Homo sapiens: one gene and its partner. The protein of the gene in region 1 interacts with the protein of each later gene in a pairwise test. Each region holds a gene or a part of one and is shown in the gene's direction. Other genes may lie near its edges.

The links. Proteins that work in one complex are often made in the same cells at the same time.
Region 2: the proteins of RHOG (region 1) and UNC13D interact in binary tests that used the Homo sapiens proteins (3 or more experiments, as listed by UniProt).

What each region holds. Positions count from the first base shown.
Region 1 is NC_000011.10:3,826,450-3,830,959, reverse strand, and holds the end of RHOG (rho-related GTP-binding protein RhoG), read left to right. Parts: intron 1-2,753; 5' UTR 2,754-2,821; coding exon 2,822-3,397; 3' UTR 3,398-3,982; downstream 3,983-4,510.
Region 2 is NC_000017.11:75,841,405-75,848,579, reverse strand, and holds the start of UNC13D (protein unc-13 homolog D), read left to right. Parts: upstream 1-4,175; 5' UTR 4,176-4,242; coding exon 4,243-4,359; intron 4,360-5,060; coding exon 5,061-5,096; intron 5,097-5,313; coding exon 5,314-5,421; intron 5,422-5,506; coding exon 5,507-5,566; intron 5,567-5,656; coding exon 5,657-5,723; intron 5,724-5,966; coding exon 5,967-6,147; intron 6,148-7,175. Other genes in the region: WBP2 (WW domain-binding protein 2), read left to right, coding at 1-10, 650-784, 971-1,093, 1,596-1,672, 1,793-1,846. UniProt on the Homo sapiens protein: Plays a role in cytotoxic granule exocytosis in lymphocytes. Required for both granule maturation and granule docking and priming at the immunologic synapse.

The sequences.
Region 1 (4,510 bases):
ATTGACCACCAAGAGTCCCCCATGGCCAAGAGGAAGTAGCTGATGAGAGAAGGATCCTTGCCATAGCAGTGTAAATAATCACAGGGTTTCTGGAAGCTGTGTTCCAGAACTCAGAAAAGCAGTTCATCTCCCCGAGGCCCTGTGACCTGCAGAGGTAACCAGATGTTGGCTGGAGCTGGGACTCCTCATACTTACCCCACTCATAAATACAGCAGTCCATTTATTGGGCACTTGCTATGTGCCATACCTCATGCTGGACATCTTCTATACATTATTAACTCTTACTTTTTATTTTTTTTTTTTTGAGACAGGGTCTTGCTCTGTCGCACAGGCTGGAGTGCAGTGGTGTGATCATAGCCCACTGCAGCCTTGACCACCCTGGGATCAAGTGATGCTCCCACCTCAGCCTCCCGAGTAGCTGGGACTACAGGTGTGTACCACCACACCCTGGTAATTTTTTCATTTTTTGTAGAGTCAGGGTTTTGCCATGTTGCCCAGGCTAGTCTCAAACTCCTGGGCTCAAGCGATCTACCTGCCTCATTCTCCCAAAGTGCTAAGATTACAGGCATGAGTCACCGTGCCTGGCCTCATTTCATATTCTGAGCAATTGTAATGCAATAGGCAAGATTATCCCCATTTTACAGATGAGAAAATTGAGGCTCAGGGAACAAATATATTGCCAAGATCACATATAACTAGTTGGTGGAGCTGTGATTAGAATACCTGCGAGTCTTACTCTAGCATCTATGTTCTTAATGATGGTATTTTCTATCCAAGAGTCTGGAAGTCTCTAAAATCTTTCAGAGGCACATGCCAGGATCTCAGGAAATGGACAGAAGATTGAGGGGAAAGTCAAGTTTTTGTCTTACTCTTGACTTCATCCTTCCTAGTTGGGCCTGAAAGATTTGCTCCAGGCCGGGCATGGTGGCTCATGCCTGTAATCCCAGCACTTTTTGGAAGGCCAAGGCGGGCAGATCACAAGGTCAGGAGTTCAAGACTAGCCTGACTAACATGGTGAAACCCCGTCTCTACTAAAAATACAAAAATTAGCTGGACGTGGTGGCATGCGCCTGTAATCCCAGCCACTCGGGAGGGTGAGGCAGGAGAATCGCTTGAACCCGGGAGGTGGAGGTTGCAGTGAGTCAAGATTGCGCCACTACACTCCAGCCTGGGCGACAGAGCAAGACTCCGTCTCAAAAAAGAAAAAAATTTGCTCCACCCCACCAAGGGCCTTGAGAGAAGATACTAATGTCTGGGAGCCTCAGCCTCTACCTCATTCATCATAACATACCCAGACCCCAGTCCAAATCCCAGGTCCAACTGAATCTCCAGTATTCCCCTGCATTGAATTGGCAATCTGAGTGTACATGGCCAGATAGGGTTTTCAGTACTTACAAGAATGATGGGGTGGCCAGGTGTGGTGGTTCACGCCTGTAATCCCAGCACTTTGGAAGGCTGAGGCAGGTAGATCACCTGAGGTCAGGAGCTTGAGACCAGCATGGCTAACACGGCGAAACTCCATCTCTACTAAAAATATAAAAATTAGCCGGATGCAGTGGCACCTGCCTGTAGTCCCAGCCACTCGGGAGGCTGAGGCAGGAGACACTTGAACCCAGGAGGCGGAGGTTGCAGTGAGCTGAGATCACGCCACTGCACTCCAGCCTGGACGACAGAGTGAGACTCCATCTCAAAAAAAAAAAAAAAAAAAAATTTCCCCATTGCCAGAATACCCTGGATTGGGATAGGGCAGCTCTCTAAAGAATTGAGCCCCTTACTCAGCAGGTTTCTTAACTGTGCCTTTGGGTTTGTACTCAGTAGCCAAGATACCAGGTTTGGAGAGGGCAGGGTGGGCCCTGAGTTGAGAGAGGTTCTACTTATGGCTGCATCACAGAGTGACCTGGGACAGCTGTCCTGTGCCAAAACACTTTCCAGTCTCCTGGTGGAAAGGGTCCATATTTAGTAGAGGATCTAGTAGATCCCTAAATTTGTGCACTCTCCTTTTGTGTCTGTATAGCCTGGAAAAAAAAAATAGCTAATACTGGCCAGGCGCAGTGGCTCACGCCTGTAATCCCAGCACTTTAGGAGGCCAAGGCGGGCGGATCACGAGGTCAGGAGATCGAGACCATCCTGGCCAACACGGTGAAACCCCATCTCTACTAAAAATACAAAAAATTAGCCGGGCGTGGTGGTGGGTGCCTGTAGTCCCAGCTACTCGAGAGGCTGAGGCAGAATGGCGTGAACCCAGGAGGCGGAGCTTGCAGTAAGCCGAGATGACGCCACTGCACTCCAGCCTGGGTGACAGAGTGAGACTCTGTCTCAAAAAAAAAAAAAAAAAAATAGCTAATACTTGTGGACGAGGCACTGTTTTAAATGCTTTACATGTATTATATAATGCTCACAATGACCCAGTGAGGTAGATATTATTTTATCCTCATTTTACTGGTAAGAAAACTTAGGCATACAGAGGTTAAGCAATTTTTTCAGGGTTACACAGCTAGGAAATAGCAAAATCAGGATTTGACCTTAGTTTGTCTGGCGCCAGAGTTTATGTGCTTTCTACCACATTATACTGCCTCTTTGCTTGGCCTCAGGGCCTTTCATTGTGTGTCTTTCTGATGACCGTCTTGATGGGACTTTGGGATAGTGTCAGGTTAAGGGAACAGGAGCCGGTTTCCCTTTGTGTGCCCCCATCTTTTCTTCCCAATAGGCAGAGGCCTCCCTAACCAAGAATGTCCCCTTTCATCTGTCCACAGGTCACTGCAGCCAGAGGGGTCCAGAAGAGAGAGGAGGCACTGCCTCCACTACAGCAACTGCACCCACGATGCAGAGCATCAAGTGCGTGGTGGTGGGTGATGGGGCTGTGGGCAAGACGTGCCTGCTCATCTGCTACACAACTAACGCTTTCCCCAAAGAGTACATCCCCACCGTGTTCGACAATTACAGCGCGCAGAGCGCAGTTGACGGGCGCACAGTGAACCTGAACCTGTGGGACACTGCGGGCCAGGAGGAGTATGACCGCCTCCGTACACTCTCCTACCCTCAGACCAACGTTTTCGTCATCTGTTTCTCCATTGCCAGTCCGCCGTCCTATGAGAACGTGCGGCACAAGTGGCATCCAGAGGTGTGCCACCACTGCCCTGATGTGCCCATCCTGCTGGTGGGCACCAAGAAGGACCTGAGAGCCCAGCCTGACACCCTACGGCGCCTCAAGGAGCAGGGCCAGGCGCCCATCACACCGCAGCAGGGCCAGGCACTGGCCAAGCAGATCCACGCTGTGCGCTACCTCGAATGCTCAGCCCTGCAACAGGATGGTGTCAAGGAAGTGTTCGCCGAGGCTGTCCGGGCTGTGCTCAACCCCACGCCGATCAAGCGTGGGCGGTCCTGCATCCTCTTGTGACCCTGGCACTTGGCTTGGAGGCTGCCCCTGCCCTCCCCCCACCAGTTGTGCCTTGGTGCCTTGTCCGCCTCAGCTGTGCCTTAAGGACTAATTCTGGCACCCCTTTCCAGGGGGTTCCCTGAATGCCTTTTTCTCTGAGTGCCTTTTTCTCCTTAAGGAGGCCTGCAGAGAAAGGGGCTTTGGGCTCTGCCCCCCTCTGCTTGGGAACACTGGGTATTCTCATGAGCTCATCCAAGCCAAGGTTGGACCCCTCCCCAAGAGGCCAACCCAGTGCCCCCTCCCATTTTCCGCTACTGACCAGTTCATCCAGCTTTCCACACAGTTGTTGCTGCCTATTGTGGTGCCGCCTCAGGTTAGGGGCTCTCAGCCATCTCTAACCTCTGCCCTCGCTGCTCTTGGAATTGCGCCCCCAAGATGCTCTCTCCCTTCTCCAATGAGGGAGCCACAGAATCCTGAGAAGGTGAATGTGCCCTAACCTGCTCCTCTGTGCCTAGGCCTTACGCATTTGCTGACTGACTCAGCCCCCATGCTTCTGGGGACCTTTCCTACCCCCATCAGCATCAATAAAACCTCCTGTCTCCAGTGGCCCCGGCTCCTCCCTGTGTGCTGGGCATTAGCGGGTGGGCATGGGCTAGGGCTCCCCAGAGACTGGGAGCCTTTTGTTTCTTCTAGTAGACAATAGGCTTCATTGTGGTCCCCTCACCCCTCAATTTCCCTAACAAAGCTCTAGGCTCCCTTGGAGGGGGCAGTCTTGCTCTGGGGCCCAGTCACAGATGCTGTAGTGGACTCAGACACAAAACCTGAGGAAAGACTTCTTGATCTTAGGGCTCAGAAAGGGAGAGGTTCAGAGCCATTAGTCTAAAGGCAGATGCTCCCACAGTCATGCATGTGACAGCTGTACCTCACATCCCCAAGAGGACAGCTTTAACAACAAGAGTTGGAATTTGAACCCAGGTCTCTGTCTCAACTGAAGACTTCCAGGTACCCTAGCTTGCAGTCCTAGAATCATTACAGATAGCTCACTCACTCCTGCTCACCAAAATAAAGGCTTAGACCAGCTTTAGGAGACTCCAGACCTAAGGGGGACTGGGGGGTTCTGCTAGGAATCATACC
Region 2 (7,175 bases), on another chromosome or scaffold:
GCATCTCAAGGTATCCAGGCTCCGAAGATTAGGGGCTAAAGACACACTAAACATGTAGGGGTTTGGTATGAGTTTGCTTCCTTTTCGTTTTGCTTTTTCAAGAACTCAAGAGGTAAGTGTTTGGGCACCAGGCTGACCAGGCCTAGGAGTTGGGAAGGAAAGCTGTCATTGGCATCAGCTCTGTCCTGTACCTCAGAGACTGCGTTTCCCTGCCTGGGGCAGGTGGATGACGTTTTGACAAAGCTGTTTGGACTCAAGGACACTTTACTATGGCCTCATAAAACAAACACTAAACCAACCATTCGACTGCGGTTCCGCAGCCATTGAAAATGACCGAGGGATGGGCCAGCAGACATCCTCCGCCAGCTCACTCCTACCCCAGCCCTGAGCCTCCCTCCCGGCCTCTGTCCACCCTCCAGCCTTGCCCTTGACCTCCCTTGCCTTCCCCTGGCTCTGACCTCTCCCGTCCTCTCTCATCCCTGACCAAGGTGGCCCCCCGAGTATGGGTGGAGGGTGGAGTGGGATGGACAGAGGATGTCTGCGGGGCACATTCCTGAGACCCAGTAGCTCCCATCTGCAGGCAGCGGGGCTGCCCTCTCCCCGCCCCAAGGCAGGCCACGCTCATTTCTCTTTCCCCTTGTACTCGTAGCCTCCAGAGGTGAAGTCCCCAGTGGAGCCTATGGCTACTCTTACATGCCCAGCGGGGCCTATGTCTATCCCCCGCCAGTCGCCAATGGAATGTACCCCTGCCCTCCTGGCTACCCCTATCCACCGCCCCCACCTGGTGAGTGTGTCCTTTGCTGCCCCCACTCCCCTCATGAGCCCACCTACCCAGGCTCCCCCCAGGCCAGGGAGACTTTATTCCTTGAGCTGCTTCAGGACCAACGAAGGAGCTGGAGAGGCCCCCCTCACCCGGGAGGGGGCCGCAGCCGGGTGCTCACCATGTCCTTGTTACTCTCTCACCGAGCAGAGTTCTATCCAGGACCCCCCATGATGGACGGGGCCATGGGATACGTGCAGCCCCCACCACCGCCCTACCCTGGGCCCATGGAACCTCCGGTCAGCGGCCCCGATGTCCCCTCCACTCCTGCAGGTGAGGGCCCTTGGGTGCTGGCAGCCCTTCGGGACCAGCCCTCTCCTCCCCGATGTCGCACAGAGAGCCTCAGAATGGCCAGAGACTGCTGAGAGCCGCAGATGATGGATGACCCCTGGACTACCCCAGGGGCCCAGCAGGGCTGTGGCCTGGTGGAGCGGAGCTAGATTCTGGCCCCACCCCCATCCCTTAGCTATCCATGTGCCCTGGGCGGGGAAGGTCACCCTGTGTGCCTCTCGATCCTCTCATCTACACTCAGCTGGTCGGTCACAGTGGCACCTGGGGCATTGGCTCAAGGATTAGATGAGGTGAGACATGCGATGGGCCTGGAAAGGACCGTGCCAGCGCGTGGCATGTGCTCAGGAAACCTCACCTGCTGCTCTCATTGGTGGAACTGGACCCCCAGCACCAGCTGCCCCGAGCCATGGGGGCCCGGGGTCTCTTAGCTGAGCTCAGGGGGAGGAGAACTTGTCACCGACACCAGGTGTGTTTGCTCTCACAGCCGAAGCCAAGGCCGCAGAAGCAGCCGCCAGCGCCTATTACAACCCAGGCAATCCTCACAACGTCTACATGCCCACGGTGAGAGGGCTTGGCAGTGCCGGTGCAGCCCCACAGCCGCAGATGCTGGGAGCCGCAGGGGGATGACCGCACCATGTTTTAAACCTTCTAATGCAAGTCTCTCCTTTCTCCCTTCTTTAGAGCCAGCCGCCGCCACCTCCCTACTACCCACCGGAAGATAAGAAGACCCAGTAGGCCCTCCTGCCTCCCTGCCTCCCACCCTCATCTCTCTACCCTACCCCTCCCATCGGGGCTGTGCTGGGGCTTGGGGAGGGGAGGGGGCGCCTTGTTCTCCCTCCAGGTCTGATCATAAACAATTACCAGGAACTAGCATTGTGGGACATTAGGGCCCCCGGCCTCGGGAGAGGTGCCGCCCAGCTTCCCATGCCAGCCCGGAGCCCACAGTGCTGCCCAGCGTACCTCCCTCACCGTCTGGGGCTCTTCTGGGAGCACGGAGCATCCCCTGTTCCTGTTTCACTCTCAGCTTCTCCCCTCGAAGGGACTCTCTGGCCACCTCCTCCACCGCAGTCCAGCTCCCTCAGTCTGGCACCCACTGCTACACTCAGCCTCATGAGCCACTTCAGACCAGCCAGGTGTCTTCCCGGGCCCTGCCAGACCCTGCTCACATTCCCTCTGCTGGTCTGTGCTGGTCTCAGAAGGCCACCGCGCCCGCATTCCACTCAGCCAGGGTCCAGCTGCAGCCCCCGCCACCCTTCCTTCCCTTCCCTGTCCTGGGTCATGTTGTTGCCACCCTGTGTGACTTTTGAAGCTGTAAAATGAGCTTCCAGGGCTTGGGTGGCGTCGGGGCAGGGCCGCCGAGGCTGGGAGGAAGCCCTTCTGCCTTTTGCTGGTGTTTCTGGAATTTGCTTTCCCTCACCTCTCACTTCCTTCTAGAAGGAGCTTCCTGACTGGAACCAGAGAATGCATGTCTGTCCACTTGGTGGCTGCTGGGTGGGGCCGGGAACAAGGGCCCCTGACCCTGTGTGCTGGCCGGGACCTGCCACCAGCCCCCCAGCCTGCTTCTTCCCCTTAAGCTTTGTGCCCCTGGATGCGCTAACATTCACTCTTGTTTGTCCCTGGACTGGCCATGAAGTGAGGAGATGGTTATTTAAAGAGAATTCCCTATTTATTTGACAAAAAATCCAGTTAATATATTAATGTGAAATAAACCCTGTTTGCACCTCGATTTGTTTGCTGAAAATGTGAAATAGTAAAAATGAAATAACTGGACCCTTTCTGGCTCTGCGTGTGGTGACCCGGGGGTCTCTTCCGGAAGGAGAGCCGTCTGGCCGCTGAGGGCCCTGGAGACTTCTGGGACGGTTCCCTCCCATGGGAGGATCCCCATTCTCACGGCCCAGCCAGCCTGTCTGGTCCCCAAGACAGCTCTGGCCTCTGGAGCTGGTTCTTAACGGTTGTCGCTCAGCAGCTGTGTCCCTCCCCCACTGAGTCCCCAGGGCCTGGCTGGGACAGAGGTGGATGTGGCCCAGAGTTGGCCTTGAAGGGAGGAGTTGGGGCTGCCACCTTGTCCCCTGCTGGCTCCTCGAGGAATGGCAGCCCTGGCCTAAGTCCTGGTTGCTGGAGGGAGGAGGCCGAGTCAGCCCTGGAGCACGTCAGGACCTGTGACAGGGACACTGAGGTAGCCAAGCCGGCTTGCCACCACCCACGTCACGTGCCCTGCTGTGAACTTGAAGGGACAGGAGGGTGGGAAATGGCCAAAGGCCGTGACCAGGCCCACACGCCCGCAAGTCCCCCAGCCCAGCACTGGGCACAGGGTGGGCAGGCCACAGAGCTCTAGGAAAGCCCCATGCTGAGGCGCATTTTCCTGTCCCCCGGGAGCCAAGTCTGTCCTCAGGAGAGATCGGGCAGCAGCCCCTCTGCCTCCTCCTCCTGGCCAGCCTGGCCCAGAGCTCTCTGGGACTTGGCTAAGCCCCCTTCAAGGGTGTCTGAAGGGAGCACTGTCCTGACTGCCAAGGTGGGGGCAGGGGCACAGGGCTGTCCCTGCCCAGCACAGCTTGGCCCCGTCATCTCCAAGGAATGTCACCTGTGGGGCCAGGCAGGCTGAGCAACTGGCTGTCCTCCAGGGAGACGCCTCTTGGGAGCCCCCACCCTGGGCGCCACCACACCCCACCCCACCCCGCCCCGCCCCACGTCTGGACGCACTCGAGGAAGTGGGGTGAGAACCCCCCCGGGCCCAGGTCAGCTTCTCTCAGGGTTCAGCCCAGCCTGGGCACAGCACATGGATGGGGCAGGATGCTGCCCGCCTGTTCTGGGCCCCCCCGCCCCCTGCTGAGAGCGTTGTCCCCTTCCCAGGGCCTCTGTAGGAGGGTGGGGCGGGGCCAGGCCTGCCCACGGGGTCCACCTTCTGCTCCAGCCAGAGGAGGGTCCTGTAGGGATCCCAGCTGGGGAAGGTGCAGGGGGCCTGGGAGACTGCCTCTCCGAAGCGGTGAAACCCTCACCCTTCCGTCCCTCCCAGCCACCCTCCCTAAAACTTCCCCTGACAGAGGGTGGCAGCCCCAGGCTCTTTGCATAATCCTGTGGCTTCGCTGTCTTCACCCAGCACCAGCGGACAGGGAAGGGCAGAGAAGGCCACCATGGCGACACTCCTCTCCCATCCGCAGCAGCGCCCTCCCTTCTTGCGCCAGGCCATCAAGATAAGGCGCCGCAGAGTCAGAGATCTACAGGATCCCCCGCCCCAAATGGCCCCGGAGGTAGGAGTGACCTCACTGGGGAGAGAGCTGGCCTTGGGGAGCACTGTGGTCTCGGGTACGGGTGCCCTGCTGTCTGGCCCCACCTCTCGAAGGCTGGGACTGGGGACCAGCGACCCTCCCCTGCCTACTCCACCCTGGGGAGAGCCCCCTGGGCCAGCAGAGCAGGGGCTGCCAGATGGACTCTGGGCCACTGTGGGCCTCAGGCCCTGTGGTCTGAGGCTCTCAGAACCCCTCCCTCCCGGTTGGCCTGACCCCATCCCCTACTCCTCCAGCTTCAGAAGAGCCGACTCCATTAGGTGGGGGTGTCCCTGCTGTGGGGTGAGCTGTTCGGGGAGCAGCAGACCCCCAGGCCGACGTGGCACCCCCCTCACCTCCGCTGCCGAGCCTCACTTCCGCTGCTGGGTGAGGAGCAGCCGCCACTGATAAGCAGAGCTGTTTCCTCTGGGGAAGGGAGGGAGGTGGGGTGCGGGTGCGGAGGGCTCGCGCTGCTGGGCACCCATGGACCTCAGCCACGGCGGGCCCAGGGACGGACCTCCAGGAGGCCTGCTGGGGGAACAGGTGCGGGGCATCACTGGGGCTGGAGGCCGGGGTGCTGGGGCCCCCATACCCTTGGCCTGGATCAGGCCTCAGAGGAGCCATTCCTGTCCATCTGAGCCTGCTCTGGGCCTCCCGGGACACTGCCTTTCCACCTTGCTCTGCAGATCCAGCCTCCATCCCACCACTTCTCCCCCGAGCAGGTAAGAGTCAGAGTGCTGGGGTGCAGAGAGGTGGGGAGGGCGGCTGTGTGTCCTCCTGCCGGCCGACGCTGATGGCAGCAAGCAACTTGCGGTGGGGAGGGGACTCCTGGGTCTCAACTCCCTCCGCTGCACAAGCCGCCCTTGTCCTGCCCATGGCGAGAGGTGTTGGTGCCAGGGGTGGCTGGTGGGGTCCCCAAGGTGACCCCGTGTGTCTTAGCGGGCCCTGCTCTACGAGGACGCACTCTACACTGTCTTGCACCGCCTGGGTCATCCTGAGCCCAACCATGTGACGGAGGCCTCTGAGCTGCTGCGATACCTGCAGGAGGTGAGCCCGGCTCCCACCCCACCCCCCTTCCTGCAGCTGCCCTGTCTGGTGCCCCCAGCCACCCACCCGCCTGCCTCCCCACCAGGCCTTCCACGTGGAGCCCGAGGAGCACCAGCAGACACTGCAGCGGGTCAGGGAGCTTGAGGTAACCTGGGGCCAGGGTCCCCCTGGGCAAGGAGGGGCCTGGGAAGCCCAGCCCCCTCAGGGACTCAGGCCATCCCTCCTGTCCCTCCAGAAGCCAATATTTTGTCTGAAGGCAACAGTGAAACAGGCCAAGGGCATTCTGGGCAAAGATGTCAGTGGTGAGCATGGGGTGGGGTCCCCAAGGGGCTTCTTCCTGGCTCCTTCCTCTCCCATCACAGCCTGGCCCAGGACTCTTGGCGGGAGCACCCACTTCCAAGAAGCCCTGTAGCGCTGGCCCCCCATGCTGCTGGTCCCCTTCCCTCTCCCCCGGAGGAGGCTCAGCCCCGGGCGGGGGTGATGAGGGCCTCTCCCAGGGACCCAGCCGACTCCCTGGCTGCCTCGTCTTCCCCACTCCTCCACAGGGTTCAGCGACCCCTACTGCCTGCTGGGCATTGAGCAGGGGGTAGGTGTGCCAGGGGGCAGCCCCGGGTCCCGGCATCGGCAGAAGGCTGTGGTGAGGCACACCATCCCCGAGGAGGAGACCCACCGCACGCAGGTCATCACCCAGACACTCAACCCCGTCTGGGACGAGACCTTCATCCTGTACGTGGCCGTGCTCCAGCCCCCACTCTATCCAGGTCTTTCCTGGGTAGCAGGGTCTGCCCCAGACAATGAGATGAGTAGGTCGTCCTGGCTCAGGGGAGGGGGTTTGGCCCTGGGCAAAGACTAGAGGAGAAGCCCATCTCCAGGCACGTTAGGTGGACAGTAGGTCAGATGGGACAGAACAAGATCAATGCCACACGTGCTGATGGGGCAAGGAGGGTCAGGCCCTTGTGGGTGAGTCTGGGGGTGCCTGAAGCTGTACCTGAAAGGAGGCAGGGATGGGTGCAGTGGTTCCCACCTGTAATCCCAGCACTTTGGGAGGCCAGGAGACTGAGACCAGCCTGGCCAACATGGCAAAACCCCATCTCTACTAAAAATACAAAAAAGGCCGGGCGTGGTGGCTCACGCCTATAATCCCAGCATTTTGGGAGGCTGAGGAGGGCAGATCATGAGGTCAGGAGATTGAGACCATCCTGGCTAACACGGTGAAACCCCGTCTCTACTAAAATACAAAAAATTAGCCGGGCGTGGTGGCAGGCGCCTGTAGTCCCAGCTACTCGGAAGGCTGAGGCAGGGGAATCGCTTGAACCTGGGAGGCGGAGGTTGCAGTGAGCCGAGATAGCACCACTGCACTCCAGCCTGGTGACAGAGCGACACTCTGTCTCAAAAAAAAAAAAAAAAATTAGTGGGGGCCAGGCGCAGGGACTCATGCCTGTAATCCCAGCACTTTTGGGAGGCCGAGGCAGGTGGATCACCTGAGGTCAGGAGTTTGAGACCAGCCTGGCCAACACAATGAAGGCCCACCTCTCCTAAAAGTACAAAAATTAGCCGGGCGTGGAGGTGCATGCCTGTAATCCCAGCTACTTAAGAGGCTGAGGCAGGAGAATCACTTGAACCCGGGAGGCGGAGGTTGCAGTGAGCCGAGATCACGCCACTGCACTCCAGCCTGGGTGACAGAGTGAGACTCTGTCTCAAAAAAAAAAAAAAAAAGGCTGGGCGCGGTGGCTCACGCTTGTAATCCCAGCACT